2 linked regions of the Homo sapiens genome follow. The protein of the gene in region 2 interacts with the protein of the main gene of each other region in a pairwise test. Each region holds a gene or a part of one and is shown on either strand. Other genes may lie near its edges. The genes, in order: MORC3 and SRI.

What was found.
Region 1: the proteins of SRI (region 2) and MORC3 interact in a two-hybrid assay, tested with the Homo sapiens proteins (one large-scale study listed by BioGRID and IntAct).

The regions. Positions count from the first base shown.
Region 1 is NC_000021.9:36,374,636-36,377,436, forward strand, and holds the end of MORC3 (MORC family CW-type zinc finger protein 3), read left to right. Parts: intron 1-507; coding exon 508-661; 3' UTR 662-1,997; downstream 1,998-2,801.
Region 2 is NC_000007.14:88,209,724-88,213,556, forward strand, and holds part of SRI (sorcin), read right to left. Parts: intron 1,203-3,833; coding exon 1,159-1,202; intron 408-1,158; coding exon 260-407; intron 1-259. UniProt on the Homo sapiens protein: Calcium-binding protein that modulates excitation-contraction coupling in the heart. Contributes to calcium homeostasis in the heart sarcoplasmic reticulum. Modulates the activity of RYR2 calcium channels.

The sequences.
Region 1 (2,801 bases), on a different chromosome or scaffold from region 2:
ATAATAAAAATTAACCGGGCATGGTGGTGTGGGCCTGTGCTTCCAGCTACTCAGGAGGCTGAGGTGGGAGAATTGCGTGAACCCTGGAGAGCAGTGGTGCCATCGCAGCTCACTGCAGCCTTGACCTCCTGGGCTCAGGTGATCCCCCACCTCACCCTCTTGAGAAGCTGAGACTACAGGTGTCGTCACCAAGCCCGGCTAATATTTTGTGTTTTTAGTAGAGTCAGGGTTTCACCATGTTGGCCAGGCTGGTCTCGAACTCCTGGGCTCCAGCGATCTCCCTCCTCGGCTTCACAAATGCTGGGAATACAGGCATGGGCAAGTGCACCTGACTCATAAAAGTGAATTATTAAAGTAAATTGAGTTCTCTAGGGGAGGTTTTGCTTTTCCTTTTGTTTAATTGTATATTATTCTACGGAGATTTGATTTTGATATTTTACTTTTTAAGGTCTACATGAATCTTAACTTGTAATGCTCATCTAATAAGTTACATATTTGTATTTGCAGCCTCAAACTCCGATCTCTTCGAGTTAACGTAGGACAACTGCTGGCTATGATTGTGCCTGATCTTGATCTTCAGCAAGTGAATTACGATGTTGATGTAGTTGATGAGATTTTAGGACAAGTTGTTGAACAAATGAGTGAAATCAGTAGTACTTAAAGTATATGTTATGTAAGATAAAATATTTGCTCAATTCTTTTGGTTGTACAGCTTTCAAAATATAATTAATTTTGTTTTATAGATATGATAGGCAACAGACTGAAAACCATAATCTTTACTGTATTCTATGCATTCAAATGTGGTCACAAATATTGTGGACACATTATCTTATGTTTTGAAATACCTGTGAATTGTTGGCATTGAGCAGCTGAAGCTAACTCATGACTCTGTTTTGAATGTAAATATTTGTAATTAAGCCTGCACATATTTTTTTATTGCCCTAGAGTACTCAAGTGTTTTTCACCAAGAGCTTTTCAGGTTGCCCCTAAGCTTTGTGCAATTTTTTCTGGTTCCCCAAAGTGTATTTTTCTCTAAGTCGAGGGCTATGCCATAATACAAATGGAAATGTTACCTTTGATTTTCTTATAAAGGAGTTTAAATAGGATTTTTAAATAATGTAGTAACACTCCTGATACAACTCTGGTTATAAGTGAATTGAGCATTAATGTTTCTTTTGTATAAATTCCTGTCCTGAAATATTTTATTCATGAAAATAAGGTAAGCAAAAACCAACTCCATTTTGCCAGGATTTTGTTGTGCTGAGATTGCCAATCACGGTTAAACACAAAGTGTTTTTATAGAATGAAGAAACAGTCTTTAACAGAAAAAAGGTATTGAAATATTAAATGGCCACCAAGTTTACTTTGAAGCCCATTTTTGGCTGTTTAGTCAGCATGAAGTGGGCATGATAATTTTTTAATATTTCTTTTTGTGAAATTTCCTGTACAGCCTTTTGTAGGATTACTACAGGTTAATGTGAGTTGAGGAAGACAGTCTTTCTCAAACAATACTACATACCTTTTATTATATTACAAACCTAAGTGTTTTATATCCTAGAGTCAAGGAACAAATTTCCTTAGGATTATAGTATTACATGCCATAAAATACTATGCTTTATTGGTCCCATGTTTTGTGCAATTTTAAAGAGATGGCTTTCTATTAAGTATAAACTATGTATATATAAGAACCATATTTTCCACAACTAAAATGTGCATTATTTTTTCCAAAGTTTTATCATTGCTATTTATTTTTACCTTTGTTTTTGAACATTCAATCCGTTCATTTTGTATGTATGCTTAATACGTGTCGGTCATATACAGTATTGAATTTTTACTGTATAGTAATTCTGGAAAGAGCAAATAAATGAAGATTGTTTTTATTTGCCTGATAAAGTAATTGAAAGTGTATTTTTGGTATGAAGCTGGTTTTCTGTCACAATTGTAATTTCCCAAATTTTAAAATATCTTATAATAAAATAAAAATATATGATGGCTAACTGTTCAAATGCTACTTTTAAAGACTTAATATTAACCTCAAATTATTTTAAAACTAAAAATGTATTCATTAGACCCTCAACTTGAGCTCATTTTAACTACTTTAATTGCAGTTTATTTTTTGAAGACTGTTTCCATTAAGACTGAGGCTGAGCTCCTCTTTCCTCAGAGCATGTATATTCTGTTTTCAAAAGCTTTTTCTCAGCCTGGCGCAGTGGCTCACGCCTGTAATCCCAGCACTTTGGGAGGCCGAGGCGGGCGGATCACCTGAGGTCGGGAGTTCAAGACCAGCCTGACTAACATGGAGAAATGCCGTCTCTGCTAAAAATACAAAATTAGCCGGGTGTGGTGATGCATGCCTGTAATCCCAGCTACTCAGGAGGCTGAGGCAGGAGAATCACTTGAACCTGGGAGGTGGAGGTTGCAGCGAGCCGAGATCACACCATTGCACTCCAGCCTGGGCAACAAGAGCGAAACTCCGTCTCAAAAAAAAAGGACTTTTCTTTGTATAAATCATTTACTCTAGAGAAACCTTGCCTAAATAATAGCAGCTATGTAAATCATATGTAAGTTTTGTGAATATCTAACTCATGCAGTGGTTCTTTTTGGAATTTGCTATTTTTCCCTTCCTTTTGGCCAGCTTCTCTATGTATTCTTGCAAAAATATTTCCTGTAGCTGTCTGGCTTGATGGGAAAATTAATCATGGGATTAGTAAGAGAAACTTGCTTGCTAAATTGATTCTTTGGAAGCACTTAGATACTTTTTGCTCTTTATGAAGATATTGAAGTATTGCCAAGATATGAGA
Region 2 (3,833 bases):
CCTGTCTTAGCCTCCCGAGTAGCTGGGACTGCAGGTGCATGCCACCACGCCCAGCTAATGTTTCTGTATTTTAGTAGAGTCGGGGTTTTACTGTGTTGCCCAGGCTGGTCTCGAACTCCCGAGCTCAGGCAATCCACCCTCCTTGGCCTCCCAAAGTGCTGGGATTACAGGTGTGAGCCACTGCACCCAGCCTGGTTTTAAAAATAAAAATCAACTTACTTCTACCAATGAATGGAGAGTTCTAGTAAGCCATACCTACCCATTGTTGTCAGGGCCTTCTGCAATTCTTGTGGGTCTACTGTTCCACTCCTGTCAGTGTCAAAACTGATAAAGTGTTGTCTCCAGCCATTCAGTACAGCCCAGAGTTCTTTAAATTCATTGAAACCCATTGTGCCAGACATATCTCTCTGAACTGTAATCAAGGATTAGAGCTGTATTTTGCGATATTTTCTAAGGATTAAATGAAAGATCAAGGATAAGGGGAATTCAATATTCAATGGCTAAAAAAGTTATTGTAGATTATTCTTGGTATGATGTAAAATTAATGATTTAAAAATAGAAAGGGGCTATGGAGAAAAAGCTCAAGTGCCAATTTTTACTGTGGGGAAAAGATAACTTACATGACTTGATTATAAGGAAATAGCGTTGCCATTGTGAACCACTTATAAAAAGCGGTCTTGTTACTGGAACTAGGCTGTACTTTGTGGGTGCTTCAGGCTATGCTGTTTGCCCTTCTGTCCTAGCATCATCTCTGGTACTAATATTCCCTTGTTTAGTGCCCCCAGACAAATGAGGTGGGATGGAATGCACTGGATAGTCAGCACTACCTAAACTCAGTCCAACAAGTGGGATGTGAAAAATCCCATCACTTGCAGAGGAATCAATGTTAAAGAAAAAAAGCTGTCCTGACACTCTGGACTCTGTACTTGTTCTATAATACTCTGATGTTTCCTTAAATTCCTGAACAACATTCTGTTTACTAAATTTCTTTTCTTCCTTTATTCACACCAAATTCCACCCTATAATAGAAGCTAATTATTTCAGAAAGCTTTTTAGTGATCATTTATTACTTTGTGTTTACTAGATATTAATTCTAAGATGAATTCCTTTAGAATTTTAGAAAAAATTATTCTAGACAACAATCAAAGTAAAGGATACATCCAGCATTGAAACCATAAGCCGGCAAGTCTCCAGGTTAAAAGCTGTTAAATCAAGAAAAGTACATACATATTAACACAAATCCAAAAATTCACATTACACTGGATACATTCAAATTAATTAGAAATATGATTATTATACACTTTTATTTTTATATGCTATCAATTTACGTGTGACTAATCATATGGAACTTCAAAGTAGCCTTTTCTCCATAAAGAAGATTTTTTGCTAGGAACCCAAATTTGATTTAAATAACTTTGACAGAATTCCTTTTAAAAAGTATTACATAGTCCGGGTATGGTGGCTCACGCCTGTAATCCCAGCACTTTGGGGGGTGCCGAGACAGGCGGATCACCTGAGGTCAGGAGTTTGAGACCAGCCTGGCCAACATGGCAAAAACTCGTCTCTACTAAAAATATAAAAATTAGCCAGGCCTGGTGGCACACACCTGTAATCTCAGCTACTCAGAAGGTTGAGGCAGGAGAATTGCTTGCACCTGGGAGGAGGCGGTTACAGTGAGCTGAGATCATGCCACTGCACTCCAGCCTGGGTGACAGGGCAAGACTCCATCTCAAAAAAAAAAAAGTATTACATAGTACTGTTCATACTTTCTTGCTTTGAAACTGTAATATAGCGAGTTCAAGTCACCATAACGAACCATAATGTATTATATCCAACATGGTGGGTGGGAAGTCAGGGTTGCTTTGTTCCTACTCATAAATGACTATAAATTGCTGGTTTTGCTAATTTTGTGTCTGATTACTTGTTTTTCTATTTTCCCTTCAATGTCAGGTACTGAGCAGTAACCTCCTACCTCAAATAGTCTATGACCTCTTAGCTTATATATGAAACCAGATAAATATGGTTGTTAGAATTATGTGTTAAATAAGAGTACTCTAGATAAGACCCCATGACCAATTCAGTGGTGGCCACTATTCAGAAGCCTTTTTAATTTACCTACAGTTTAGGAGTATTATGAGGGCATTTTGGTACCTCACTTATGTAACCAAACCAGAGCACATGCAATGGGTGTGGTTACTGGTAACCTAAGCATTAGGAAATTAAAAACCACCTCTTACATTGAATTAATGGGAATCAATGACTGAAGAAATTGTATAGGTACAAAGAAGCTACAACGCTAAATGGCAGAAGTGACAAGGGTCACGTGGGAAAAGCTGGTATAAATTCTGCAAGCTTGTTAACACACAGAACATTTTTAACAGCTCTTTGTAGCTTCATATTTTTTCTCAAACCAAACTGAAATTAAAACACAACTGCGCTCATTACTGTAATGTCTCCCAACAGTGCAAACTATAGGTTTTACACATTTAATAGATTCCTGTGTTTGGCATATGCTTTACTGGAAATAAAAGACTAGTGACTATTTCTATTTTGGTCCTTCAATCTCCATTTGATCCACAGATAATATTCTCTGAGGTGAGAGGAGGAGGAAGCACTTTTTACAGTTTGGGAAAGAGCTGGTAGATTCTTCATTCTGACTTTTAAGTTGTGTGGAGGTATGAAGTCCCTCTAATCTGGAGCTGTAGTTCTCCACACTTGTGCTTATCTGAATCAAAGCTTTAAAAGATTCTGATACCTGGGCTGCACCATAGAACAATTAAATCAGGAACTCTGAGTGTGGGACCCAGGTATTTGTATTTTTAAAAAGCTTTTCAGATGATTCTAGTGAGCAGCCAAGGTTGAGACCACCATTCTACTCAAAGTGTGATTCCTGGACCAGCCATATTAGCATCACCCAGGAGCTTGAAGAACTGCAGAATCTCAGCCCTTACCCTACACCAATAAAATCAGAAGCTGAATTTTAGCAGATGTGCAGGTGATAGATATTCATGTTAAAGAAGCTGGTTCAACCTGAACCAGCATCACATGGAAACCTGTTAGAGGTGAAATTCTCAGGACTCACTCCAGACCTCTGAATGAGAAACTCTAGGGCATGACCCAGCAATCTGGTTTTTGTAAGCTTTCCAGGTGATGCCAATGCTGCTAAAGTTTAAGAACTGCTCTGGACGGCCTGACAACCACAGCGCAGAGCCAACTGTGTTGGGCTCACATGAAGGTATTGAAGGGGCTATGAGGCAGACAGCTTCTCTGTCTCTGTTAATGAATGGCACCCCCATCCACTCAGCAGTAACCCAAGCCAGAAACCTGGGAGCCTCCTCAATTCCCTCTCCACCAATAATCAATCACCTTCTAAACAGCTGTAGAGTCCATTTCCAGCCCCACTGTCTCCTTAGTTAGCATTTCTCTCACCTGTATGACTCCAGCAGCTCCCTAATGGGCATCCCTGACTCTTGTTTTACTTCCATGTCCCCCAATTTATTAGTCTTTACAGTCAGGGGTAGTATGTGCTCTCCTATGCAAAACCCAGTATCAGTGATCTACTGCTCTCAGGATAAAGTCCAAGCACCTTAACTGGTACATAAGGTAACACACTTATTTTGCAAGTCAGGCTCATCTCTTACTCTTGTTCAACCCCGTACACTATCTTCATGGAGAATTTCTCAATTTCTTGACTGAACCACGCTATTTCTGGGTCTTCTGCACATGCTGTTCTAACAACCTAGGACACAACTTCCCCATCCCACTCACTTCATGGTCGGCCTCATTTCTGCTCAGCTTAGGTATCAATTCTGCAAGGAAAACTTTCCTGACTC